Regions from separate parts of the Homo sapiens genome. Here regions 2, 3, 4, 5, 6 and 7 are each linked to region 1. Evidence: fine-mapped expression QTL. A gene starts in region 1. Each other region holds a variant in brackets. All regions are shown on one strand. Distances are between the middles of the regions. Region 1 holds the start of CHN1 (chimerin 1). Region 2 overlaps CHN1 (chimerin 1). Region 3 holds the start of LOC124907908 (a long non-coding RNA gene). Region 4 overlaps CHN1 (chimerin 1). Region 5 overlaps CHN1 (chimerin 1). Region 6 has its middle 24 kb from the start of CHN1. Region 7 overlaps CHN1 (chimerin 1).

The links. PIP is the estimated chance that this variant, and not a neighbour inherited with it, causes the effect.
Region 2: its variant is fine-mapped to the expression of CHN1 in whole blood (TOPMed, PIP above 0.99).
Region 3: its variant is fine-mapped to the expression of CHN1 in whole blood (TOPMed, PIP above 0.99).
Region 4: its variant is fine-mapped to the expression of CHN1 in whole blood (TOPMed, PIP above 0.99).
Region 5: its variant is fine-mapped to the expression of CHN1 in whole blood (INTERVAL, PIP 0.99).
Region 6: its variant is fine-mapped to the expression of CHN1 in tibial artery (GTEx, PIP above 0.99). The same link has a PIP of 0.9 or more in aorta, coronary artery, esophagus mucosa, ileum, stomach and subcutaneous fat.
Region 7: its variant is fine-mapped to the expression of CHN1 in whole blood (TOPMed, PIP 0.97).

What each region holds. Positions count from the first base shown.
Region 1 is chr2:175,003,124-175,007,192 of GRCh38, reverse strand. It overlaps CHN1 (chimerin 1), which reads left to right and starts at 1,812. Exons shown (of 13, transcript NM_001822.7): 1 at 1,812-2,299. The coding sequence starts at 2,281. RefSeq lists a silencer at 2,052-2,111 and an enhancer at 2,096-2,642.
Region 2 is chr2:174,857,378-174,861,446 of GRCh38, reverse strand. The region is part of intron 6 of CHN1 (chimerin 1); the gene reads left to right. Among named protein-coding and RNA genes, the nearest start is that of CHRNA1, 95 kb to the right of the region's middle. The variant C/T (reference allele first, on the strand shown) is at 2,073.
Region 3 is chr2:174,786,029-174,790,097 of GRCh38, reverse strand. It overlaps LOC124907908 (a long non-coding RNA gene), which reads left to right and starts at 2,148. Exons shown (of 2, transcript XR_007087311.1): 1 at 2,148-2,224. RefSeq lists enhancers at 1,263-1,557, 1,970-2,785. The variant G/A (reference allele first, on the strand shown) is at 1,909.
Region 4 is chr2:174,821,250-174,825,318 of GRCh38, reverse strand. CHN1 (chimerin 1) reads left to right here. Exons shown (of 13, transcript NM_001822.7): 8 at 801-885. Among named protein-coding and RNA genes, the nearest start is that of CHRNA1, 59 kb to the right of the region's middle. The variant G/A (reference allele first, on the strand shown) is at 2,342.
Region 5 is chr2:174,951,530-174,955,598 of GRCh38, reverse strand. It overlaps CHN1 (chimerin 1), which reads left to right. Exons shown (of 13, transcript NM_001822.7): 2 at 3,397-3,435. Among named protein-coding and RNA genes, the nearest start is that of CHN1, 52 kb to the left of the region's middle. The variant G/T (reference allele first, on the strand shown) is at 1,892.
Region 6 is chr2:175,027,002-175,031,070 of GRCh38, reverse strand. It overlaps the pseudogene RNU6-1290P. Among named protein-coding and RNA genes, the nearest start is that of CHN1, 24 kb to the right of the region's middle. The variant A/G (reference allele first, on the strand shown) is at 2,466.
Region 7 is chr2:174,842,559-174,846,627 of GRCh38, reverse strand. The region is part of intron 7 of CHN1 (chimerin 1); the gene reads left to right. Among named protein-coding and RNA genes, the nearest start is that of CHRNA1, 80 kb to the right of the region's middle. The variant C/G (reference allele first, on the strand shown) is at 1,936.

The DNA.
Region 1 (4,069 bases):
GGTTCTATTCTGAAGGAAAATATTTTCCTTTAAATTATAAAGGCAAAAACTTTCTGAGATTACAAAAAACACTTCCAGGGGCTCACCTAAGGTCCCTGAATAGCCCATAATCCCCTTGAAATTATGTGAAAAATTTCCGGTGAATGTGTGTATGTATGCAAGCACTTTTCTAAGAGGAGGGACAGTATTTTCATTAGAGCCTCAAAAGGAAATTTGGTCCAAAAATGTTGAAGACCACTAGTTGAAACAGTAAATGGAGTCTTCGGTTTCTGATTTATTTGGCTGCAGAGCAGATTAGCAGCAATCTTTATATGGTTATAAAATCTATCCCACAAAGCTTTCTTGAGTTTCTCATTTATTTTCATGAGCTGTGTGTTTGTAATTTTTTATGAGCAGAAAGGTTGTTCAAAATCAAGAGTCCATTTTCATGAAAGATTTTAAATTCTGGGGATTTTAAAGATGTATTTTGATTAGTGGCTAAAGAGAGCCATTTTACATCACAAAATTCCAAACATATAGCATCTTAAACACTTGCCCATTCATGTTGAATCATTTTAATATTTCTTTCTTCCTGAGTTAACTGACTTGAAACAAAAGGCTTGGCTCCTCCTTCCAACCTGCTTTTCTTCTGATGCTTAAGTCTGCTTTGAAATAATGATGGTGAATTAACTGTGGTTCCATTGGAAGTACTGTAGTAATCTCCCACTTTATCAGGATTCGATCTCTAAGATACATTAAATACAAGATATTTCTATAATATTCTTAAAGAATTATTTGAAAATGGGAGAGAAGACACTAGGGAACCTGAGGAACTAAGAGGAAAGACGCCTGTAGAAAGAAAGGAGAACCAAAGAGAAGATCTACATGATCAGATACCAAAATAGTATCAAATCCCTAAGCAGAGAAACAAGAAAAAAGAAGGAATTTCTTAAACAGGGAACACATATAGCAACTAGAGAAGAATGACTTTTTGAATACATTAAACGACAACGACGAAAAACATATAACCCAGCTTTTCAAGAACATCTTTTGGCTGACAATCTCAAGGCGTTGTATGGCTCCTCATGGCAGAGACAGAGGTGAGGAGACAACATCACAGAAAGGAGGACGTTGCCAGTGATTATCAGATAAATACAAGAAGCTCAGGGGAACAATCTTTTGTGGCAAATAAGTGCCAGTCAGTGACACATGCTGATTTTTTTTTCCTTGAGACAATATCAAAGAGGTATAATGTAAAGGGAAGAAAATCAGGTGTAAGCATTGGTCTTTTAACAAATTATCTTAGGTAATCTCAGATGCTTTTTAAGCGACTCCTTTTCCTAATGTGTGTCAATTTCATCAGAACTACTAGCAGCTCCTAAGTCCAAACGGAGAGGAATGCAGCTTTCAGTGCCTCTGTTCCTACCAGAGCCCTGCAGCTTCAGGTCACCGGCTCCAGCCACAGTGAGCCTGGAGGGCGCCAGGAGAAGAAATATGTTCTCACACGCACCAGGTCCCCAGATGACCCTGCCTGGGCGCTGCGTTCACTCAGCATCCTCCTGTGACTCTTCCTCTTTCGAGTAACAGCGTTTTTCTCCTCTCTGCGCCTCCTCAAATTCCATTCAAGAAAAAACCTGGGCTTTCAGCTAAAACGCACACCGGCCCCGCTCCATCCCGCTCCGGGCGGCCGCCTCCAGGGGGGCGCTGGTGGCTCCTCGCAGCCGCGGGAATGAGGGCGCACCCTCTTACCCCCGCGCGCGCCCGTTGCCATGGGAACGCACTCGACCGGGAAGCCCGAGGGAGAGGCGGGAGGCAGCGGCGCGGCCGAGCTCGTGGGAGACGCTATCGCAAGATGGCGTCTGCGAGGCCGCGGGATGCGGAGTGAGCGCGCCCCGCCGGGGGCTGTGCGAGGCTGCTGCTGCTCTCCCCGTCGCCGCCGCCGCCGCCGCCAGTGCGGCGCCGCCTCTCCGCCAGCCACTGCGCCGCGGCCAAGCCTCCTGCCTCGCAGGTACCTCCTCCCGCGCGCACGCTCCGCGCCTGATGGCAGCGACAAGTGCCGGCTCGCGGAGAGCTAGCGGGGCTCCCTGGGCCCGGTGCGCCCGACAATAACGCGTGAATAACTTTTTCTTGCAGCGGTCCCCCGCGTCCCGGCCTGCAGCCTCCCCGGGCGCCGGCGCCCCCAGCACGCCCCATCGGGCACCCCACTCTCTCCGAGGTGTGGGTGCGGCGGGCTGATGAGGTGATCCCTAGCCCGCCTGGGAGGAGCGCCTGGACTCGCGGGCGGCGGCGAGCGCCTTTACAATGGCCCTGACCCTGTTTGGTAAGTGCAGCCGTCTCCCCGCGCCGCCGCAGGTGGGCCGCGTCCCGGGGCTCGGGGGCGGGGGCCTGGGGGGCCTGGGCGCCCGGGGAGGGGGCGCGGCGCGTGGGGTCGGGGCGGGCCGGGGCCGCAGAGTTGGGGCGCCCGGGGCGCCGGCTTGCTCCCTCGCGCCTCTCCCATTGTTTCCTCTCCCGGCAGGGCCGATGGGCGTGTGCTCCCCTGGCCAATTCTCGGCTGGGAGGCTCAGAGGTCCTGGGTGTTTTGCAAACGCACAAAGATTCTCTAAGATGCCAACTTGGGAGTGAAGTTAACTGGTTGTTTTCAAACCTGCCTTTCCCGTCGGTAAATAAATCCTTGGAAAGTTTATTTATTTTGAACGAGGTATCTGTGAGTCCCCAGCCTCCTTGGAATTGCCAAATGCATGTGTTGCTTCCTGTTGGACTATTGGGGAATTTTTTTTTTGGACTCAGTATATTCCGTTGGAAATAAGTATGATTTGTGAACTGAATATGGGTTAAAATTGAAAATGTTTGCACTAACGAATGAGAGCAGACAGAATAAAGTTGGTTACCAGAAGATAACTGTAATCTCAGGAGACTGAGTATTCATTAAGAATGAAATGTTATTTTTGTGGTGTAATTACTGCAGCACTGTTGCTTTTGGTGGTTAAGACTTCAAGCTGTTTTTTTCTCAGTCTGCAATGACAATGGGTTGGGAAAAAGGACTGAAAAGATACATTCTTTCCTTTTACAAAACGACTATGGTACATACGTACCTGACTTTAAGAAAACTCAATATGTGAACATTAGACGTTCAAAGTATTCAGCTTTTTTGAAGAAGCAAAGTACAATGATATGTAATTGATAGCTACGAGAACAGCCTAAGTAAGTTATTCACAATATCAAGTTTCCAGTTCAGTTTTAATTATGTCATTTGATCAAACACGTTAGAGGTGTTACATACCTCAAATGCTTTTTGAGGTAAATACTTCCCAGTGAATTAAGCTGCTAGAATCAAAGTGTTACTTTTATTTAACTATCTTATTTTATAAATTAAACTTAGACCCAGAGAGGTTGTTTCCCAAAGTCACATGGCTCTTTTGTGGCAAAACTGAGCCTAGAATTCACTTCACCAGGCTTCAGTCTGGGACTGTGTTTACTGTGCCCAAGTGCATTACTAGAAGTGCCATTTCTTACTTGGTGATGATCCTCCATAGGTACTTTAAAAAAGTGTCTTCTTTTTCTGAAAAATAATAAAATTCTCGCTGTTTCTCAGTACCTTGTATCTAAGCATTATTTAATAGCAGCATTTTCCTTAAATGTGGACCTTTTTGGTACAAACATTTTCTTTCCTAAAGAGATATTTGGCATTTTCAAGGTGTGGTTTCAGAAGTAAGGTTTACAAGTCAACTTTTCAAATACTCGCATTCCTGACGAATAAAAAAGATAAATTGGGGTGAAAAATGCTCTTTTAAAAGGATTTCTAAATTCTAAATCTTTAACCACTGTGGTGAAGATGAGGAAGGGAAAAGCATGGAATGTGGCCTATAGAAGAAAGTATAAGAAATCACTCCCAGCCTTCAAAATGAATAATGTATCTTTAAAATTTTAAAGTCTACTTATGGGAAAATAGAATTCACTTCCCAAAATCCAGTTTGTTACAGTGTGAACGTTTCTGTGTTATAAAACAAAGCACTCTTGAGTGCAGAGGCTATTTGTTAAGTAGTGATAGAGCAGCAGCTGTTTTTAAAAGTGGTTGTACACCACTCATCAG
Region 2 (4,069 bases), 150 kb after region 1:
AATGTGCCATGAATTTTGCTCATTCTTTTAACATTTATTTAGCATCTACTTTGTCCCAAGCCTTGTGTTAAGCTATAAGACTGATGCTAATGATGATAACAGTATCAATATCAGCATCACCACATAGTCTTTGAGAGTTTTGAGAGCTCTCTGCATGCTGGGTACTAAAAATATATGCCTTATGTATATTCCATACATTCTACCTATATTATCTCATCCTTCCAGTCCCCATGAAGTATAGGTACTATCTTCATTCCAGTTTTACAAATAAACTGAGACTTATCTAAGATCCCATAACTAGTAAATGGAGCTAAGATTCTTTTACAGCTAGTTTTTACTCAAGAGCCAAGCTTTTAACCACTTAACACTGAATTTTAAAAATTTTAAATTTTTAAATTTAAAACAATTTAATTTTTTAAATGCTTTATGGAAGGAGGGATTAGGCAGATTGAGGAGGAGAGTTTATAAACTGCAGCTCCCTGTCTGTATTATTTCTGATAAAAGGACCGTATGAGATGGTCACAAACTACCCTGTGGTTTGGACTTCAGAGGGCTTTAAAAGCACATCCATATTGGAAAGAGCGAGAAATCTGGGATGGAGAGAGGTGTAGAAGTCATCTGTGAGAGTGTCAGAAAGCCCATGAGGGGAGGGAGCAGTTTGGAAGGAGGGCATGGTCATAGATTTCACGGACAAATTCAACTTTTGTTAGAAAATGTGATTATGGGACAAAAATACGGTGCAAAAATACATTATTCATGCAGCACTTATCTCAATTACAATTTATTTATTAAATATGTATTTAATATTTGGTCCTTGTAAAATAGTATACCACCCTAGTCTCTGGTATGAAGCTACAGTTTCATTAGTGCCTAGCATATAATAGATACTCAATAAAATGTATGCTGAGTGAAAACTATTTATGAGCACTTAGTATTGTACATATATACTTTGAGCATTTCAGTAGTTTCATTAAATGAATTTGTGGGTTTTATGAAGTTTTTACACTTTGGCCATATGTCTAGCACCCAAAAATTTATTTTTTTACATTATATTCTTTTAAAGATAAAATACATCCTAATTATATAATTACTCACTGAATTACCAATCTGCAGTCTCTGTTATAAATTTAAGACTTGTTTAATTGTTTTACCCATGAGATTGAAATGGCTTTCCACCTTGTAAATTATGTATGTCTATTTGGTGGATTTTAATGGAAAGCTTAATTAGCTATTTCTAAAAACAGTTTAATTAGTTGCTCAAGAGACTACGCTCTCATTTCATTGGTTTGGAGGTAGTTTTATTGATTTGTTTTTATTTAAAGATCAGGAAAAGCCAGTGCAAAATTAACAAAAACAAAAAGGCATGCTACTCAGTAACTCTGTTTGAAGCCCTGATATATTATCTGACAAAAAACTGCATGTATCTAAATGAGATCAACATATCACTTTACCTCCTATCCCCCACCATCAAAATAATGGAAAAGTTTTTTTTTAATGCCGAGGTTAATCACCAAGGCTGACCTTACTTCTCTGTATGTTGTAAACCAATTGTCAGGCTTAGAACTGAATTAAGAGTGGTCATTTTCAGTTGTGAGTGTTTCTGTTTGCTGATGATTCTGGGTCTTTGTGACAGCTGAGCCTTACTTAGGGTTAAGAGTCAGCCTGTTATATCCCTAGGTCTCAGGCAAGCACAGTAGAGTAGAGAGAGGATAGGGAAGTCAGAAGGCCTGGTTTCCATCTTGGCTGCTTTGCTTACTATCTGCCCTGAACAAACACCTTAACATCAGTGAATTTGCCTTTTGAAAAACAAGAATAGGAAGTTACAATGAAATAGTATATATGACATATCACTTTGTGGAATGTAAAGCTCTAAGTGCTACTGATTTGGGGACAGTGTAAAAGTGTGCCTGGATTTCTTTTTAGCCGGGTTGGCAGAAGACTACAGTAATTAAAATTATTGTGAAGTAGAATTAGTACCGGATTATTAAACCAGTTACCTCACAGATTACTTCTTGATATGCCACCTGGTTATAGAATCAGGCCTAGGCCTGGAAGAGGTTTCTGAGTCCTCC[C/T]TTGGGCACCCAAGCCTGTTCTCCTGAAACTATGTTTTCCCTGCTAGTTGTCAAGGATATGCTAAACCTAAAGGTGAATATGACATATCTTCCTAGAGCGTTAGTTTTACTCAGTAGTAATGGACTGAAAATATTTTTGTATTAAATAAGCTTAGGTACATTCTGAGGAGCTTGGAGAGCCACTCCTGGATCTATGCACATCCCTAGTCACTGTTGGTTGCTATTAGGGGCATTTTAGTGGACAAGGTAGTAATGTACCAGTCTCAGCTGGCCAGATAGCCTCAAATAACATTTGAGCTTATCAACCTAAAATCTTCAATTGCTATCTTACTTTAACCTTTGTTTTTGTTTGTTTGGTTTTGTGTGTGTGTGTGTGTGTGTGTGTGTGTGTGTGTAGAGGAGGAAATCAGCATGGTAGATTTTTCTCAGTCCATTAAAATGTCACTGAAAGATATTAATCATCCTTTAATCTTTTCTTCTTCCTCACAAGTGCCACTTGTTGCAGTCTGACTTTCTGTGTCTTCCTTTCTAACATACTGACCACATGTGGACCTTGTACAGATGCCTCAAATCACTCTTAAGATACTGAGTTCCATATGGGACACAGTCTGTATAAAAATAAGAACCTAATGACTATCTCTTATATGAAGAGCATATAAGTTAGGGGTTGTTAAGTTTTCTATTAGTTTTATTAGGATCCTTTGAACTAACAGGAATTTCATAAATGAAATGCTATGGACATGATATAAAAAGTTTGTTTTAGAAAATGCCCAAAAGCAAGCTACTTTTACTTTTCAAACATCATTATCTTATAAAACGTGCAATAAGTATAGCAGAGTCATTACAAAGAAAATTAAATGTATGGCAGGACAGTGGACAATTAACACATCTGTGATTTATGCCCATGCTTGTACTTCTTCCCAGGGTAATTGTTTATAAACGTTAAATCTTTTGTCTTCAGGCCACTGTTGCCATTTTCAAAATAAAAGCAAATTTTCAAAAGTATGTTTGAAGATCACAAATCTGCTTTATACCATGAATCAATATATATCTCTATTGAGGCTTAAAATGAATATTTTAAATAAATTACAATTGATATATTCTAATCAAACTGTGGTTTATTTTTGCCATAGAAAGGAAATTAGCTTTTCTAACTGAAGTTTAAAGAAGTCTGTAACAGGCCCTTTTTAAAATAACCAAATCACTTAGGCTTCATCCCAGCCTAATCAACAGAAGTCACTAAAGGAATGAGAAAACTAAAAATACAACCTTTAGCTTTTGTTTTGATATACTAGATTGCCTCCATTAAATTAGTGAGTATAGAGTGTTTGCTGAGATGCAATAACTTGAAATAACCTCATATAGCAGTTTAAAATCTGAAAACACTCCTAATAATATCAATCTGAGTCTGCCTTTTAGTTGTATTTTTTATATGTATATTATATCCAAAAGCTTTTTGAAAAAGTGAAAATGTTTATGATTCAAGAATTTTGCACTAGATTTAAAGTTCCTTATTGTTGACAAAGTGTTAGACCTTCTCTGATTTCACCTTCTCTATTGCCACAGAACAATAATAGTGTTTCTTTAAGTCTTGCAGGTAATAGGTGTCAAAAATTGGGTAAAAATTGACAAAAATAAAAATGTAATGGCACATTTCCCCAAGTATCCCCTCAGATTCATGGGGGTTGGGGGGAAGATCAAGAGGACCTTCTCATGAAGCCCAGTTTCAGCTTTTGATTAGGAAGAGCCTAGGAAGAATGTTGTTATACAACCATCATTCCTGGTAACCAAACATTAGATAGTGTTAGATTAGAACATTTTATTCTTATATAATTTCGTTTATATTTATATATTGTTGCATAATTCAGAATAAGGACATGTTCCGTTTATAGTATAGGTTGTTACCAATACATCAGGACCACAATCTGCCACCCTCCAAGAATTTATAAGTGAAAAAATAAGACTGTATCTTATGAATTAACTTTAAGATCACCTAA
Region 3 (4,069 bases), 220 kb after region 1:
TATTCAGCCATAAGAATGAAATCCGGGCCAGGCGTGGTGGCTCACGCCTGTAATCCCAGCACTTTGGGAGGCGGAGGCGGGCGGATCAAGATGTCAGGAGATCGAGGGCATCCTGGCTAACACAGTGAAACCCGGTCTCTACTAAAAATACAAAAAATTAGCCGGGCGTGGTGGTGGGCGCCTGTAGTCCCAGCCACTCGGGAGGCTGAGGCAGGAGAATGGCGTGAACCCGGGAGGCGGAGCTTGCAGTGAGCCGAGATCGCGTCACTGCACTCCAGCCTGGGCGACAGAGCGAGACTCTGTCTCAAAAAAAAAAAAATAAAAATAAAAATAAAAAACTCCTGTCATTTGCAGCAACATGGATGAAACTGGAGGACATTATGTTAAGTAAAATAACATGTTACTCATGTGTGGGAGCTAAAAAAAACCGTGAATCTCATAGAAATAGAGAGAGAATGGTGGTTACCAGAGGCTGGGAAGGGATGGAGGATGACGAGACGTTGGTTAATGGGGACAAAAATACTGTTAGATAGAAGGAGTAAGTTGTAGTATTCGATAGTATAGCAGGGAAGTTATAGTTAATCATTTATTGTCTATGTCAAAATAGCTAGAAGAATTGTGACTCTCCCAACTCAAAAATGTTTGAAGTGATAGATTTCCCAATCAGCTGACTTGATAATTACAAATTGTATACAGGTATCAAGATATTATACGTACCCCCATATACATGTACAACTATTATACATCAATTTCGTAAAAGAAAGACCTTAGTGAAATGGGAAAAGTTCACTTGTCGCCCTTGCAGGGCGTGCGACACGGGGACCGGCTTGCTTCTTCAGTGCCCCATTACTCAGGCCTCTAGGGAGCATACAGACGCGAAGGCTACCGGGCTCCAACCCCACGGCAGTGTCGAGGGGTGGATGTTTACAGCTCCTGAAGCCCCAGTGGGCGTGTGCTACCCTGCGCTCTTTTAGTTTTGTCGTCTATAGGCAGCTTGTATTAACCAGCTCAATTAGACCCTCTGCCTTGTTGCAACAACAGGGGGCTTTCTGTATCCTGGGTGCTTGCTTTGCTGTAACTGAAGAATCGGATCACACCTGGGCTTGGAGAATGAGTGCAAGATTTTGAGTAAAGGCAGCTCTCAGCAGATGGGGGAAGTCAGAAGGTGATGGAGTGGGAAGGCTTCCCCCCTGGAGTCGACAGCTCAGCGGCCTGGGCTCTCATCCGACTGCCACAGCATCATTCTGCTTCTGCCGGTCAGTGGCCTAGTTCCTCCGCCATTGTGCTCCTCTCCACGTCCTGCCATCTGTGTGTCTGCCTGCTAGGGCCTCAGGATTTTTATAGGCACAGGATGGGGGCGTGGCAGGCCAGGGTGGTCTTGGGAAATGCAGCATTTGAGCAGGAAAACAAAAATGCCTGTCCTCATCTAGGCTCGTAGGGGTGGAGCCCTAGCCAGGGGCCACGCCCTTCCCTCCCCCCCCCCCCCCGCCCCCGCTTCCGTATCACTTAAAGGGACCACGCTCTTCCCTTCGGTATCATTAGGAAGCTCAACAGGAAGGGAGGTGGGGTTATCATAGGCTAGCCATTCCAAAATACTATTTGAAAATGGGACTGAGACCGTAGTTTGGAAAGAAGTACTTGTTCTGAATGATCAAAGGGGAAGATGATCAAAGGGGAAGATGACACAAACTCTATAAAAGGGTCAGATGTCTGTTCAAGGAAATGAAGCATTAAGGATCTGATTATTCTTTAGGTTTTTAACTGATCAGGACTTGCAGTTCTTGTGTTACCAAGGGCCTGGTTTTCTGGTCAGCAGCACACAATTGTTTTAAATCCCAACCACTCATCCTAGTAATCCAAGCCCCTGAGTAGCCACAGGGGTCTTGCATTTCCCCGGGGCAATGGCTT[G/A]AGGGAGAGTCTCCTGCCCCTCTATGATTTTCAGGAAGAACTGATTCCCTGTCCCAGGTTAGATGGGTCTCCAGGAATATCCCTTAGTGACTAGAACAGAGCCCTCAGCCAGCCATCCTGGAGCTTCAAGCACCCTACTGCAGTGGGTGGTACATCTGGGCCCCATATGTTCGCAGGGAGGGGCTGAAGAGCCCAGGCCTACATTGCCAGGTCACCCACCCATTTGATGTGTGGTCACAGTGGAATCTGGTTGCCATGGGGATGCGAGGTTTTCTACTCAGGCTGTTTGAGAAGCAAATTTTTCCATTGTGTATATGTAAGCATACTTCAACATCTTTAAATTCCTTTTCTTTTTCAAATAGCATTCAGGGTGGATTCATACATTTAAAGAAAAATTCTAAAAGGCAATTTCCCAGAAAACAGGCTTTTGGAGGGTAACCAGGGTTCAGCCTTTGTTGAGGGATGAGGATAGGAAGAAGGGGCAGGGGCCACTTTTCTGAAAGCACCCAGGTCTACCCGCGCTGTTTAACATCTATCTCTGTGCTGCTGCCAGAGGCTGGCCCAACAGTAGCAGAAGCTCCAGGGATAGGCCAAAGAAAGCATTTTTTTCTTCTTCAACCTTCAACAAGGAAAGTTTACCTTGTTTTCTTTCTTGGTATTCAGTAAATGATTCCACAGCCCAGGCCTCTCTCCTCTATCTCAACACACAGGAACAATTTTTTGAGCTTCTGTGGACTTCTTTTTGGAATATGGTAAAATATACATAAAATTACCATTGTAGCCATTTTTAAATGTACAATTCAGTGGTATTAATTATATTTACAGTGTTGTGCCATCCATCTACAGAACTTTATCATCATGACAAATAGAAACTGTACCTGTGAAACAATAACTCTCAGCTGGGCGTGGTGGCTCATGCCCCTAATCCCAGCAGTTTGGGAGGATGAGGCGGGTGGATTACTTGAAGTCAGGAGTTCAAGACCAGCCATGGCCAACATGGTAAAACCCGTCTCTACTAAAAATACAAAAATTAGCTGGGGGTGGCCACACACGCCTGTAATCCCAGCTACTCAGGCTGAGGCAGGAGAATTGCTTGAACCCGGGGGGCGGAGGTCGCAGTGAGCTGAGATCGTGCCACTGCCCTCCAGGATAAGTGACAGAGCAAGACTCTGTCTCAAAAAAAAAAAAAAAAACTCTCAAGGGGCATGATAGCTACCTGCAGACCCAGCACTTTGGGAGGCTGAGCCAGGCAGATCACCGCTTGAGCTCAGGAGTTCAAGACCAGCCTGGGAAGCTTGGCAAAACCCAGTCTTTACAAAAATTACAAAGATTAGCCAGGTATGGTGGTGCATGCCTGTAGTCCCAGCTATTCGGGAGGCTGAAGTGGGAGAATCACCCTAGCCCAGGAGGTCAAGACCGCAGTGAGCAGAGATTGTGCCACTGCACTGCAGTCTGGGTAATAGAGTGAGATTCTGTCTCAAAGAAGCAAACCAACGACACACACACAATAACTATGCCCTTCTTTTCCTAGCCCCCGCTAACTACTGTTCTATTTTCAGTCTCTGTGAATTTGCTTATTCTAGGTACCTGATAGAAATGGAATAATTCTATAATATTGTCCCTTGGCGACTGGCTTATTTCCCTTGGCACGGGTTCAAGGTGCATCCATGTTGTAGCAGTCTCAATGCTTCATTCTTTTTAAGGCTGAATCATATTCCATTATATAGATGTGCTGCATTTTGTTTATCCATTCATCTGTGGATGGGCACTTGGGTTTTTCCACCTCTGGCTATGGTGAATAAGGCTATGGTGCACAAGGGTCTGTTTGAGTCCCTGCTTTCAATTCTCTTGGATATATAACCGAAGTAGAATCGCTGGATTGTAAGGTAATTCTATGATTCACTTTGTAAGGAACTACCAAACTATTTTCCACAGCAAGCCCGGGAGACTTCTGATTAATGCGTTTCCTGGAGCAGCTGAGGATTGTTTTCCAATAGAGTTTGGCAATGAGAACAATGGCATCTATTTTTTAATTCTCTTATTCACTTTCTATTTTTCTCTGAAGGTTTCTGTATGTCTTCTTTGTTCAAGATTCTCCTATTGACTGTTAGATATAACATATCTGGGGGCATCACTGAATTGATAATTGATTGATTGGTGG
Region 4 (4,069 bases), 180 kb after region 1:
AGAAATTGGGCCTTTTTGATGATTCTGATGTGACCCATCAATAAGTATCTCCTTTAATGTCTGTGATCCTACTCATAGTCACAGAAGGTAAATTATCTGCAAAATTCCTAACAGGACCCAAGACATACTCTATATGGGCACTCATGCCTTTTCATGTCATAGTACTGTAGAAATAGCATAGTACATAGAAATGCCAGTATTTGTATAGATTAGGGTGCCTGCACCTGAGGGGACATTGGAAAACTCCATTATATAGTTTTCGAAAGTAAGTTACAGAATATTGGTCTGATTTATCATTCCTAAAACAAAGAAGAAATCAAGCTCTGAAAAAAATGTTAACTGCTTGTCAGTTTCACTCAACCAAGGTTCTTTTAAATGCAGCCATGTTGGCGCTTCATTACTAACCATGGGCTGGGTGCAGTGGCTCACACCTGTAATCCCAGCACTTTGGGAGGCCAAGGCAGGCAGATGCTTGAGCTCAGAAGTTCAAGACTAGCCTGAGCAACATGGTAAAACCCTGTCTCTACAAAAAATACAAAAATTATCTGGGTGTGGTCGTGTGTGCCTGTAGTCCCAGCTACTCAGGAGGCTGAGGTGGGAGGATCACTTGAGGGAGGCCTCAGTGAGCTGTGATACACCACTGCACTCCAGCCTGGGCAACAGTGAGACCCCATTTCTCTTTCTCTCATATATATATATATATAGAATATGTGGCTTGTATATTAGTGCTTTGATATGAAGCAGTCTTCTCATCCGTGTGTTTCCCCTTTCCTGACTTTGCCCCTCTTTTTTTTTTTCAGGTGCATACATTCAGAGGGCCACACTGGTGTGAATACTGTGCCAACTTTATGTGGGGTCTCATTGCTCAGGGAGTGAAATGTGCAGGTAAGAGCTCTTGTCTTGTCTCTGGATTGAGTCAGTTGTGAAGTTATAAGAGGTGAGGTAGAAGGAGACTTGTTGTTATGCATATCCAGTAGGCTGGATCCTGGTTTGGTCTTATGCACATGCAGTAGGCCAGATTCTCAGGCAGCCACTTTGGAAATTTGATATTTTATCTGCTCTTAACCTTCTGGCACTTGATGGACAGCACACTAGGGATCTGGCATTAGTCCACTGAAAAGAGAGAAGTCAGCTTGTTCAAAAAGTCTGATAAAAGGAGATAAAAGTAAGGCAGTTATATTTAATACTTGCCTTTGATGTTGCAGTAACTAAATTTATAAAAATGATTTTTTTAAAGCAATGTACAGGGACCTATGATTGTTGCCTTGGAAACTGAATTTTAAAGATAACTTGTTAAGCTGGATTGTCCTTACTAAATTTTTGTGAAATCAAATTGAAGCTTTAAAAATCTGTGAATTCATCTTCAAAGATGGTTACCAAATTCTGAAAAACCACTTAGTCACTAATATTTTCTGTGTGATGTTTTGAAATCAAATACATCAAATACTTTTTGTAAAATATGACCATGAATATTTAGATACAAATTTAGAAACCAAAAGATTTACACATACAGAAATAGCCAACACAAGGATGTATTTGAGATACTTTGTGAAATAAAGTACTTATGTATATCACGTGAAATCCATTTGTATAGAGCAACTATACTGAATACTGGCCATTTATCCAAACTACTTTAAATTCTTTTTTTTTTTTTCTGAGACAGAGTCTCACTCTGTCTCCCAGGCTGGAGTGCAGTAGCGCGATCTCGGCTCACTGCAAGCTCCGCCTCCCAGGTTCAGGCCATTCTCCTGCCTCAGCCTCCCGAGTAGCTGGGACTACAGGTGCCCGCCACCACACCCAGCTAATTTTTTGTATTTTTAGTAGAGACGGGGTTTCACCATGTTAGCCAGGATGGTCTCGATCTCCTGACCTCGTGATCCACCCGCCTCAGCCTCCCAAAGTGCTGGGATTACAGGCGTGAGCCACCGCACCCAGCCCAAACTACTCTAAATTCTGACATAGGCTTAAAAATAATCATGTAAATTTTAAATGTCTATTATTTGGTCATAAAAGTTTCCTTCTGCCATTTAATTTGTAAAACTAAAAAATATCTTCTTACATGTCTTTTAGCATGAAGCTTTACACTAAAAAATATACTAAGTAAAGTATTTCAAAATGGTAACTATAGTAACTGTCAGATTTATCGCTATAAACATCATTTCTTTTGTGGCATGATTTTTAAATGGAATATTTTTGTTGTCCATTATGTGCAGAAATTTCTGGGGTCTGATTCTTATTTCTAAATTGCATTTCCTTTGAATAGCAAGATATAGTATGTATTGCATGGAAATGTTCCAAGTCGCTCTTCTTTCAGTTATTATTCCCTTAGTATCACTAAAAT[G/A]TAATAAGGTTCCAGGCATATATCACCATTCAAGGACCTTCCTGCCACAGGAAGTGGGATAAGAATCCTACACGTGTGGACTTGGAGCTGTGCAAAGGTGTTCGTCAGGGAGCGCCTCAGCTCAGAGTCGAAGCTCAGAGTGAATGAGGAAAGCCTTGCTGTGGCTGGTGGTTATCCAGAGTTGGGATGAAGAAGGCCATGGTTGTGCCTTTGCACTGGAGGGAAACAGTAGAATGGAAAGTGTTGATAAAGTGGAGGTATTGAGGCAGTGTGCATTGCAGTTTCACAAAGGCAGATGGAATACTCTTTCCAAAGCACAAATTGCCTGCTCGAGAACAATGGTCTCAATGAGCCCAGTTTGCCTTTATGAGACAGTCTTGTCCAGCTGATACTCTGCAATAGTTTTTTAAATGTTTTATGACTGTCACAAACTTAAAAGCTTTTCTTTCATGAGTAAGGGTGTATATTGTTTCCATTTTGAAAAAGTGAAGCCCATCTACATAAGAATTCTTAACTATTAATAGAGAATAGGTACAGCACCTATGAATAATCTTTGGGAATACGCTACAACCCCAATCATGTTGGAAAGAAATGTTTTGGAACATTTATCATGTCAATAATATGGGGGAAAGGAGAAAGAATTCATCCCCATCTCCACAGCCACCCACATTAATAGCCTCTACCTCTTATTGTGAGTAAAGGTCAGGAATTGAAAGAAAAGCCTTGAGGAGATTTTTCATTTTATGTTATATCTTGTCCTTAAAAGCATTATATTCAGTGTGATTTGAACCATATTAATGTGTAATACAAGCACAAGTCAACTCATTTTGAAAACACGGAGGGTTGGAATTTGAATTCATTCTGTTTTCTATGACAACTAATTATATTTGGATTGACAGTGAGATTCTTAGGTCTGAAGTGGCTTTGAGGCTCATCTGGCCTTTGACTATCTAAATCCAAACGCAAAGAATTGAGAATTTAAAGAGAGAGTGCACACTAGCTGTGATAAGCTGAAAAATAGCTCCCCAGAGATGTCCGCTTCTAATTCCCAGAACAACATTCCTTGTTCCTTTCATGGCACGAAGAATGTTGCAGATGTCATTTAAATTAAGGATATTGAGATGGGGAGTTTTGGGTTGCTATGACAAAATACCACAGACTGGGTAATTTGTAAATAACAGAAATTTATTTCTCACAGTTCTGGAGGCCAGGAAGTCCAAGATCAAGCTGGCAGCAGGTTCAGTGTCTGGTAAGGGTCCAACTCTGCTTCCAAGATGGCGCCTGGAAAGCTATGTCCTCCAGAGGGGAGGTGCCTACAATGCAGTGTCCTCATGATTTGGCAGAAGAGTATAAAAGGGGCCAACTCCCTCTGTCAAGCCCCTTTATAAGAGCGCCTAATCCCATTCACAGGGGAGGCGCCCTCATAAGCTAATCATCTCTGAAAGGTCCCTTCTCTTAATACTCTCACATTAGCAACACCTGAATTTTTGAGGGGACACTTTCAAACCACAGCAGGGAAAGTACCCTAGATTGTCAAGGGAGGCCTAGTATAATCACAATCATAATGGCCCTTATAAAAGGGAGGCGAGAGGTTGATAGAGAAAGATGATATAAGGACAGAAGCAGAGGTCAGAGGGAAGAGAAGATGCTATGCTGCTGGCTTTGAAGACAGAGGAAGGAGCCAGAAGCCAAGGAATGCAGGTGGTCTTTGGAAACTGGAAAAGGCAA
Region 5 (4,069 bases), 52 kb after region 1:
ACATGAATAAGTTCTTTAGTGGTGATTTCTGAGAATTTGGTGCACCTATCACCCGAGCATTGTACACTGTACCCAGTGGGTAGTCTTTTATTCCTCTCCCCGTCCATCCTTTCCCCTCACTCCCCAAAGTCCATTGTATCATTCTTATGCCTTTGTGTCCTCATAGCTTAACTCCCTCCTGTAAGTGAGAACATATGACGTTTGGTTTTCCATTCCTGAGTTACTTCACTTAAAATAATGGTCTCCAATTCCATCTGGGTAAGTTCACCTGAACTGCTGCAAATGCCATTATTTCATTCTGTTTTATGGCTGAGTTGTATTCCATGGTGTGTATATATATATGTCTATCTATTTATCTCTATATATCTATATCTATATAGATATATATATATATCAATTATATATATATATATAGATATAGATATATAGAGATATATAGACATAGATATATAGAGATATATAGATCTATATTAGATCTATAGATCTATAGATCTATATATATAGATATATAGATGTATATACCGCATTTTCTTTATCCACTTGTTGATTGATGGGCATTTGGGCTGGTTCCATATCTTTGCATTTGTGAATTGTGCTGCTATAAACATGCGTGTGCAAGTGTCTTTTTCATATAATGACTTCTTTTCTTCTGGGTAGATACCCAGGAGTGGAATTACTGGATCAAATGGTAGATCTACTTTTAGTTCTTTAAGGAATCTCCACACGGTTTTCCATAGTGATTGTACTAGTTTACATTCCCACCAACAGTGTAAAAGTATTCCCTTTCACCACATCCACACCATTTATTATTTTTTGATTTTTTAATTATGGCCACTCTTGTAGGAGTGAGGTGTTAACATATTGGGGTTTTGATTTGCATTTCCCTGATAATTAGTGATGTTGAACATTTTTTCATGTTTGTTGACTATTTGTATATCATCTTTTAAAAATTGTTTATTCATGTCCTTAGCCCACTTTTTGATGGGATTGCTTGTTTTGTTCTTGCTGATTTGTTTGAGTTCCTTGTAGATTCTGGATATTAGTCCTTTGTCGGATGTATAGATTGTGAAGATTTCTCCTATTCTGTGGGTTGTCTGTTTGCTTTGCTGATTATTTCTTTTGCTATGAAGAAACTTTTTCATTTAATTAAGTTCCATCTATTTATCTTTGCTTTTGTTCCGTTTGCTTTTGGGTTCTTGGTCATGAAGTCTTTGCCTAAGCCAGTATCTAGAAGGGGTTTTCCAATGTTATCTTCTAGAATTTTTATGATTTCAGGTCTTAAATTTAAGTCTTTGATCCATCTTGAGTTGATTTTTGTATAGGGTGAGAAACGAGGATCCACTTTTGTTCTTCTACATGTGGCTTGCCAATTTTCCCAGCACCATTTGTTGAATTAGGGTATCCTTTCCCCACTTAATGTTTTTGTTTGCTTTGTTGAAGGTCAGTTGGCTGTAAGTATTTGGCTTTATTTCTGGATTCTCTATTCTGTTTCACTGGTCCATATCCTTATTTTGATACCAGTACTATGCTGTTTTGGTAACTATGGCCTTATAGTATAGTTTGAAACTGGGTAATGTAATGCCTTCAGATTTGTTCTTTTTGCATAGTCTTGCTATGGCTGTGCAGGCTCTCTTTTGGTTCCATATGAATTTTAGGATTGTGTTTTCTAGTTCTGTGAAGAATAATGGTGGTATTTTGATGGGAGTTGCATTGAATTTGCAGATTACTTTTGGTAGTATGGTCATTTTCACAATATTGATGCTATGCATCCGTGAGCATGGGATGTGTTTCCATTTGTTTGTTTCATCTATGATTTCTTTCAGTAGTGTTTTGCAGTTTTCCTTGCAGAGGTCTTTCACCTCCTTGGTTATGTGTATTCCTAAGTTTTTTT[G/T]GTTTTTGTTTTTGTTTTTTGTTTGTTTTTTGCAGCTTTTGTATAAGAGATTGAGTTCTTGACTTGATTCTCAGCTTGGTCACAGTTGGTGTATAGCAGAGCTACTGATTTGTGTACATTAACTTTGGAAACTTTGCTGAATTCATTTACCAGTTCTAGGAGCTTTTTGGATGAGTATTTAGGGTTTTCTAGGTGTGCGATCATGTCATCAGCAAACAACAACAGTTTGACTTACCAATTTGGATGCCCATTATTTCTTTCTCTTGAAGCAGACATATTTGAACACTCTATGGGGTGCCAAGCAATTTCCACATGATTTAAAATTTCCATGTTATGTTCTTATGCCCACTATTAGCAGTCTTGCTGTAACCCTTTTTCTCAAAGTATTTGTGTGGTTTATGATAACACATTATAAATGAAGTGTGATATTGCAGTTTAAAGGTTGCAGATTGGAGGCTGAATGTCTTATGTCTATGACCATTTTACCTGAGCTACTTGTTTAGTCTTCTCAATAAACTTTCCAGGGATTTTTTTTTTTTTTTTGCTTCCTTGGAGATCAAAATTTTTGGATCAGATTGCCTAATGGGTTCATGTTGGTTTCCAGCAGAGCCAGGTGATGTGGCTGGCCATACCTTTCTATACCAAAAAATGTTTCTGCAGTCGTGGCTATATAGTCTTGCAGGCAGAGCTTTTGACTGGCAAAAATTAGTCCCCAGCTATGCTTTACTGATGAGAAGCCACACAGCGTAGCCAGAAGCTACACTGGCCCCTTCTTCTTTCTCTGATAACTCCACGTCCGTCATGTGTTTGTATTTCCATCTCTTTCCACTTCCTATTTATACTGTCTCCTACATCTGCACTCAGGCAACATGAGGGGAAATGGACTTGAAGAGCAGATGTTCACCTCATGTTCGTTGTGGTTCCCTAGATACACTCTCTTCCATTGAAGTGTTTCTCATTTCCTGGTTTTGATTGTCCAGGATGTGTGAGGACTGAGATCTGAACCTTGCTGTTCCTTCTTTCTTCATGTTAGTAAAACCATGTACATTGGAATCCCCCAAATGTAACGGGGGAAAATAATAGAAATACTTAACTTTTGCGGTGATTAAAATGATTAATCTGGTGAATTTGACTGAAAAAGAAAAATTCAATAATTTTAGGGATCTTTCAGTGAAATAATCATTAAGCCCAAAGAAACAAAGCCTTTATTGACTATTACTTCAGTGATAGTAAGAAATGAGTACCAGCAGTAAAAGTTAACCTTGATGTTTTTATGTAATTAGCAATTGAATAAATACAGTAACTTTATTTAAACATCTTTGTAAAATTACTCCAACTAAGTAAGGACCAAGACTAAAAAAAAACCCTTGAATGCCCCTTAGTGCCTAGCACAATACCTAGAACAAATAGATCTCAACAGATATATATTAAATGAGTTAATGATTAAAATGTCTCATTTAAAATTTAAATATTCAGTAATGTTAATTTGATGTTTTTTCTTTCAGATACAGATGAATATAGACCTCCTGTTTGGAAATCTTACTGTAAGTCTACAAATAATTGTGTGGGTTATAGTGCTTTATAAGTAATATAAAAATATGGGATTATTAGATAGAAATACTCATTCCATTTTGTACCCATTGTTGAAAAATTAATTTAAACAAGGTTTGGGAGTAGCATAGAAATAATTGTGGTTAAGTAAGTGTTTACACAAAGTCTGTACAGTATATGGTTTTCCGTCTGGAATGCATTTCATCCCTCTGAGCTTATATGAATTCCATGTAGTGAAACTTGAGACCACTTGTTCAGAGTGGCTAATGAAGCTAATACAAGGAGACACTGAGAATTCAAACAGTCTAATTATTTTCAGGTCCTGATTCTTTATGTGAAGAAAGGAATATTTAAATGACAATAATTCAGGAGGCTATGTTGATAGAAAGAATAAGTGAAAAGAGGCAAAAAAAGGTGATCTAACTTTTAAATAATTACTTTCCCAAAACATAAGGGAGATACTTGATTCCATGCTGCTCTTTAAACTGCGTTAGGATATTTCTTTTTAAACATCTAGGGTTTTAGTTCTTTATTTTCCTTTCCTTGTTTTCTAGAGAATATTATTTCACCAAGTAAAGGATATTTCAGATTTTAAAAGTTCAAATAGGGCTAATATAATCAAAATGG
Region 6 (4,069 bases), 24 kb before region 1:
CCTGCATGACAGTGGAAGAGGGGGTGATTAATCAAGAAGACAGTTCTTCATGGGTCGGGATGGGAACCTGGCAGCTCCGGGAGTGCTTTTCCTTTAGGGACACACAAAACACTTCAGCACTGAGGAACAGAATTTCTGTGATTCTGAGACTGGATGCACAATTGACACCAGGGCTCTTAGGGGTCTCCACCTCATCCTTAGGGCCAAGACAGCAGACAGACAGCTGCTAAAGCTGTGGCCCTGTGAAGCTCTTCTTGGCCTGTGGGTCACTCTTCCTCCCTCTTTCCCACAACCGTCTTCTATGGACTATGTCAGCAGAGAGGCTGCCTGGGCAGCTCTGCTGTCCTTGCTGTGTCTCTTACGGCCTTTGACCACAGCTTCTCTCTTGCCCAACACTTGTACGTACCACCTGATTGGCTGCATTTAATCACTGCTTCCTAGGTTTCTCATGCTTTCCTTCTCTAGTTTAAAAGTCCAGCACTTTTTTCTACCTGCCCCTTTTGGTTTCATGTTAGGGTTTCCTGTGGCTGTGCCCCACAACTCAGAGATGTACCCAGGATGATGTCAAACAAGTTGAGGTTATTGCTTGGAGATTGACTTACTGCTAAACAATGTCAATATATGTCTTTGGGGTTGCTACACACAGATGTCCTTGGCTGTCAGTATCATGGAATCTCTCATCATGGCAGTGATGCTATGGGCAAGGCCCTTGGATCTCACCACCTTTATTCAAGAGACAAGCTGAACCCGACCAACTTTCTTAGAAATATAATTTAGCAGTGTTGTTTTTTTCATTAGGTTTAATTAAATTCAGTAAAATGTATGTATCTTAAGTGTAAAGCTCAGAGAATTTTTATGGACATGTGTCCCCATATAATCATCCCCCAGATCCAGGTATACACACGTAAATGAAGTCTGACAGCATGAGTCAATTGGAGCTAATTTCTGCATTCAGGGGGAAAACAGCTAAGACAGTGATTCTCAAACTTTCATGTGCTTCCGGATCACCTAGAGGGCTTATTGAAACACAGATTGCTATTCCCAGGTAATATTAATGCTTCTTGTTCAGGGACCACATTTAGGGAATCCCAGGGCTCAGGACTGCTAGGAAGCGCTAAACTGTCTCCAATTCATAGACATGCAAAGAAGGAAACCCCATTAGCAAAATAATTTTATTTATTAATTTTTCTTTTTAAAATATGCAATGTGTCATGAATTTGTGTGTCATCCTTCCATAGGGGCCATGCTAATCTTCTTTGTATTGTTCCAATTTTTTAGTATATGTGCTGCCCAAGAGAACACAATTTTAGTAAAAATGAATTGGCCATATACTTAACTGAGGATCTTTAAATGCTAGCCTTCTATTTTCTGACCCAGAATTTTCTGAGTGGGTCTTGGTTGCCAGCAAAGGAGTCCACAAAGTTATAAGCATAGACTGCATCAGAACAATGCCCTTTTGAGACTACTTTCCAATGAATTAATCAGTGCTGAGTACTTGAAGAGCTTGAAAGGATCAATATGCTTTTAAAGTCCGGAAGACTCATCATACCCTTTTTACAGTCAGAGCAGGGGTATTGGTAAATTGCTCTGAGATCCTCAGAGGGAGATTAACCAGCCAGCACTTATTGTTAGGGCATTTAAAGCATTTTATTTTAAGTAATACATTTAATAAATGTAAAACTAGCCACCTAAAACATGTACTTTTTTGTTTTATATTCATTCTGTGAACATAGAAAGCTTCATAATTTTCCAGATTTTCCTACCATGATCATATATTGCTCTTATAATCAGAAAAAACAAACCCCAAAACAAACAAACAAAAATAATCCAGGGCAACTCCCCCCTCTTGCTGCCTCTATTTAGTTAAACAAGGTGTATTTAATTAAGATTTTCTATATTACAAGATATTTACTCTTTTTTTTTTGAGATGGAGTCTCGCTCTGCCACCCAGGCTGGAGTGCAATGGCATGATCTCAGCTCACTGCAACCTCCTTCTCCCAGGTTCAAGCGATTCTCCTGCCTCAGCCTCCCGAGTAGCTGAGATTATAGGTGCCTGCCACCACACCCGGCTAATTTTTGTGTTTTTAGAGACGGGGTTTCACCATGTTGGCCAGGCTGGTCTTGAACTCCTGACCTCAGGTGATCTCTGCACCTCGGCCTCTCAAAATGTTGGGATTATGGGCATAAGCCACTGAGCACAGCCTGATATTTACTTTTTTTTCCCTACAAACACACATGTATATCAAAGATTTCATGGGCTGTTTTTCACCACTATTTAAATCTACAACGTACAAGAAATAGATTTTTTGAACAATAGCCTTTTAATGTATCTTCTTATATGTATATTTTTTCTTTTTAAAAAAGTAGCATTAGAGGTGGGGCAGCTTTTGAGAACAAAGTTCTTTTTTTAAAGAAAAAGTAAGCCATTTTCACTGTGGAGTAAATAAACAGAGGAATTCGGATCC[A/G]CCTGATTTAATTCCTTTGTGTTTACTTAGTGTGGGCTCATCTAGCCAGTGGTTGTTCTGTGAGCAAATAGTCTGGCAACACTTTCTTTAGAAAGAAAATGCGCTTGCAGGCGGATTTGCACCATCTACTCTGTTTCCTGTGCCTCCAAGGCTGACAGCAAGTGACCAAAATGAAAAACGATGACCCAGTGGTTTCACAAGTCTTCATCTTACACAGGGGCAGGACCACGGCTTCTTCCACGTCCTTCCATGGCTATGGCCACAGGCATCAGCAATACGGAAAGTAGACTCAACTTTGACCACGTGGGCACAATCCTGAAAGTGAGACCAGTTGGGAACAATCTGTCCTGGGAAACAGTCATGCCTCTTTCCACTCCCACGGGACTTTAGGGCAAAAGCCAACAGGCAGCTGCTTCTACTTTTTAAAAACTGCAATTCATCGGTCTAGTGTTTGGTTATCCTCCTTTAAACCTAAACAAAAATCTCAAAAGAGTCATGTGTTTTTAGAATAGGAAATGAAACAGAGCATTCCTGAATGATCCACCTATCTCCCATTTAGAATTCCTTGTTCATGTGTCCCTGAAATGACATTTACCTGGCTCCTCTTGGGGCCAGTGGACTGTGGCCCTCCAGGCAGCTGCCGCTGGGAAAGAGCATGTCTCCCACTGGGCTGGAGTCTGCACCAGGCCTTTCCTCCCAGGGCTTCAGGAGCAAGTCAGGTGAAGTCCCATCCCTCTTCTACAGGACGGTACTTCTGGTATCCGAAGACTGTTATTTCATCTGCTTTGCATCTTGTGTTATTTCAGAACAAGCCTTTTAAAGGCTCTCAACTGTTCTTCAGATTACATGGTTGTCTCTCTTCTCATCCTCCTCCAGGGCTTTCCAGCCCATCAAAGTGCTGAGTACATACTCTATTTTGATGGGTGCTGAGGAGAGAACTCAAAAATTATAATCTTCCATAATTAAGACACACTACTTCTAGCAATGGAGTCTCATCTTTGAAAGTTTTATGATAGCCTTGCCATTTTACCAGCTCAAAATGAACTTGACATCAGCTAATCTCATGTCAACTTCCTAACTCAGAGTCTTTTAAAATTTTTTTTATTTTTTCATATTTTCTTTTTTCAAAGCAAGATATGGAGTGGGAAGACTTGGAGTCCTTAATCCATGAACTTCTGTTAAACTGTCTAATGTCCAGGTATTTGAGCCTGAATGTAGACTTTATATTTGCCTGGTTAAATGGTGAAGAAAAAAACTGCTTCTCAGGGAAGTTAGGCATTTCATGTAGTAACTGAGTAACTGAGGTTTTAGCATATCATTCATTGATAGCATATCAACACATTTTCCATCTCAACTCTATCATTCAAAAATTATTAGCATGGGCCAGGCACGGTGGCTCATGTCTGTAATCCCAGCACTTTGGGAGGCCGAGACAGGCAGATCACCTAAGGTCTGGAGTTCAAGACCAGCCTGACCAACATGGAGAAACCCCGTCTCCACTAAAAGTACAAAATTAGCCTGGCGTGGTGGCACATGCCTATAATCCCAGCTACTCTGGAGGCTGAGGCAGGAGAATCGCTTGAACCCGGGAGGCAGAGGTTGTG
Region 7 (4,069 bases), 160 kb after region 1:
GACTGATATTTAAAAGGTCTCAGTTAATGATGATTTTGGCATTGTTTTTATTTGTGATACAAATGTGTCTGAATACCTCTGTTGGAGATTTTATGAGAGGATTAGATCTGTGTTTCTGGTAAAAAGCTTTGGATATAAGAGGCATGTGCTGTTGCATCTGGATTGAGCAGATGGTTTGCATTTCTCATAGTTTCTGTCTTTTCTCCCCTGTTAATGAATTGACCATGATGAAAGGAGGATGGCTACCATGGGACTGTTGATGCTGCTGACACTAGCAGCTTCTCCTCACTTTTTGAGTATTTGCTTTCACCATGTATGCGTATGTGTAGTTTTTAATTATTGTGTTAATGTGGTTTATCAACTGTACTTGAATTTTCTTTCAAGGTGATATGTGTGTTGATTCAAGCTGTATGTAGATCTAGTCTGTATTTATAGCATGATATAAGGCCTTGAATTTCTGTCCTTTGCAATCTAATTCAGAGATTAAACAACGTGAGGTGGTGCATAAGTAGACCCAGTTACATTTAATAGGTAGATGCACTGGCATTTCTATAGTAACTTCCCAATAGTTAGACAACTTTGTGATGCGGTTCTTGAGACATGAATGTTCTTAGTTTAGACAAAGTATCATTAGGTTTTATTTTAGAAAGGGAATAATTTGGTTTCAAAATGTGATAAAGCTGGAAATCATGATCTTTCATTTATTTATTTATTCAACATTTATTCAGCACCTATAATGCACCAGGCTCTGAAATAGATAATTTCATTCCACATTTGCAATTTATTCTGATTTTTAACACCAGTATTTATTTTACTCAAACACTAAATACCAACACCCCCCCCCCCACCCATATGCTCTGCATTTTCCATAGTGAGGAATAGGTTTTTGTGATCTTCAGATCATTTTGGGATGAAGGAGAAATTACCTAATAAAATTATGTTTCTTAAATATGTGGGCTATGTAAAAATTGCTAATATTTTAAAATAAACTAAATAACGTTTTCTTCTTCCTCTTTAAACATATTAAGGACCTTACCTTTCAACCAATATCTTGATTTAAAATGAAATAGAGGCAACTTAGTAGATTAAATACCGGATAGAAAAGAGGTATCATATGTGTATCTAGCATTCACTACATCTTTCATTTAGGAACCTAAGCAATACATTCAGGCTTCTAGGCCTCAGTTTCTTTTTGCATGATATACAACCTGATCTAACAGGATTTTTATCAGGAAAATGACCCCAAATAAATCCTTTTGCCAATATGAAGTTATGTCAAAAAAGAAGTCTTTGGGTTACTAATAAAGAGGAAATTGTATGTACACTGTTTAGAAATAGCTGAGATCTTAAATATATCTCCAAAGATGTACTCTGATTTGTTCAGCAAAAACAGCAAAAACCTACTAAGAATGCCATTTGAGTGCTAGGTCAAGTTCATTATACATGCTTTTTATCAATATTGATTAAGAGCAACTAGGAGGTCTATTCAAGAATTTGCATAAACAAACTCTTTTTGTGTTTGTATCTTCCAGTTGTTTCTCAATTTTAACACATGGCTTTAATGAATAAATTCTACACAGCTGGAAAGTTCTGACTCTGCCATCAACTGTAACTCTTACCTTGGTATCTAAACTGCTTTAAAGATACTTGGGTGTTTTTTTTAAGCCTTAAAAAATGGAAAGCTTCTTCCTTCTCTGGAGCTGAAAAATAATGAAAACCAGCTTGGACTTGTTCTTAGAGTATTTATGCTCAAGAAAGAGTTCATTTTAGACAATGAGTTGCATTACATATTATTTAGAGTTGCTAATAAGGTCAGAAATCTCGGAATTGACTCTTTCCATTGAAGTTACTCTCTGTTATTTAAAAATGTTTCTGTGGGGTGGCACTATAAAAAATAAGAAAGGAGGAAAGTCATACTTGACTTCCAAGAACATC[C/G]CAGACTCTGTGGCAGGTGCAGTTCTCTCCCACACAGACGCTCGCTTAGAAGGTCACTGATTGTGATATACACATCTATGTATGTACAGTTCAGAAATTTGTGTGGGGAAAAACCGTAGCATTTCCATGACGATAATCATTCATGTATCCTTGTCATTATGGTGGTAAAAGTGTATTCTGTATAACCACGGGCCCACTCACCAAAGCCTCATTTCAAGGTGGTTTTCTTTTTTGCTTCTTGAACTGCCTTGTTATGTAATACTGCTCTGTGGAATCGAACAGCTGTCAAACCTTATTTCAGGGAGTGAAGCCAAGAATGCCTTCTACCTTTGGTGAAAGCACTCACTGAGGTGAAAGCCAAATAAACCAACTGGACCTAACTTCAGCCTACAGACAGGCGTTTGTTTTTGGGGTTTGGGGTTTTTTTAGTAGAATAAAACAGGAAGGCTTCCCTTTTGCTATGTTATGTAACATGGTCTCTTTTTTTTTTTTTCTATTGTTACTTATAAGGATTTGAGAAAGCATCTATCACAAGAAGGATAGTTATATCCCTTAGGGAGGTTATTTTACAGATAAATGCACCAAATCCTCTAAAAACTATTACACTATAAGTTATCTAAATCAATTAGAAAATAATTGTAATTGTCCCCTGGATCAACCTCTTATTTTAAGAGCTACCTCATCCTAATACAACATACAACACACACACACACACACAGAGAAAGAGAGAGAACAAAACAAACTCTAACATTAAAAATAAAACTCAGGCACCCTTCCAGCAATGATTGTGCCATGCATTCTGAGGCTTTCTGGGTAAAATGATAAATAAGATCCAGCCTTTGCCCTCAGGAGCTTGCTTATTATATGCACCACCTTGGGTCAATTGCTTAATCTCTCTCTACATCGGAAAAATTGAGTTCCCAGTACATGTAGATACATGGTAGCCACTATTTTTGTTACTACAAATACCCCTAAGTGGGTTTTTTTTTTTTTCTGAATCTATACTGACATTTATTTATACTTAAGGGTTCATCTGAATCCTCTTATTCCTGTCCAGTTGCAGAGATTATGATGTGATTGAAAACCTTAGCATGATCGTGGGGACTGTGCCTAGTTGTCAGGCAGAGTTAGATGTTGCATAAGAATAGCTACATTTGGCCAGGCACAGTGGCTCATGCCTGTAATCCCAGCACTTTGGGAGGCCGAGGTGGGCAGATCGAAAGGTCAGGAGATTGAGAACATCTTAGCCAATATGGGGAAACCCTGTCTCTACTAAAAATACAAAATTAGCCGGGTGTGGTGGCACGTGACTGTAGTCCCAGCTCCTCTGGAGGCTGAGGCAGGACAATCGCTTGAACCCAGGAGGCAGAGGTTGCAGTGAGCCGAGATCACATCACTGAACTCCAGCCTGGGCAACAACAGCAAAACTCCGTCTCAAAAATAAATAAATAAATAAATAAATAATAAAAGCTACATTTTTCATGCACTACAGAATGCAGTGAAATCCTCTATATTTATTTTACTCTTTTCAAATTAAACTGTTAAATGTTTCATCTGGTTTGTTGCTTAATTCAGATAGCTCTATAAAATAAAATCAAGAGCAGATACAATATTATAATAACGACAGAAGCTAGGCTACTTAGGCAAATTAAGTAATTAAAAGAAAACAACATTAAGAATTATAGGGAGTAGATACTAAAAATATGAGTTTAATTTTTTAAGGTAGTCTTGAATTAGTTGTTGATTTTCATTTCAGGTACTTGCAGTCTGCATGTAAATGAAAGATATAAGATATTGTATTAATAGATTTAGTGTTGCCAAGATAACAGGCAAACAGTGAATCCTGAAATGTGAATTGATATTGCAATTAAAATAACACTGTAACATGAACCTTATAATAGTTAATAAAATTACTGATTCAAGACCTACTAGGAAAAAGAGATCATACTGAACCCAGCAATCCTAGCCAACAGACTGGACACTGTGCTGTCTGGTGAACTGAAGGGCGGCAGTGGCCGACACTCTTGCTGAGGGTAGTCTTTCCTTTCCTCCCGAGGACGTGGGCAAATCCAAGCCCCCTTTGGTCTTCATTTGGTTCACATTTATAATAAAATTAATACAAAATGAATGAACA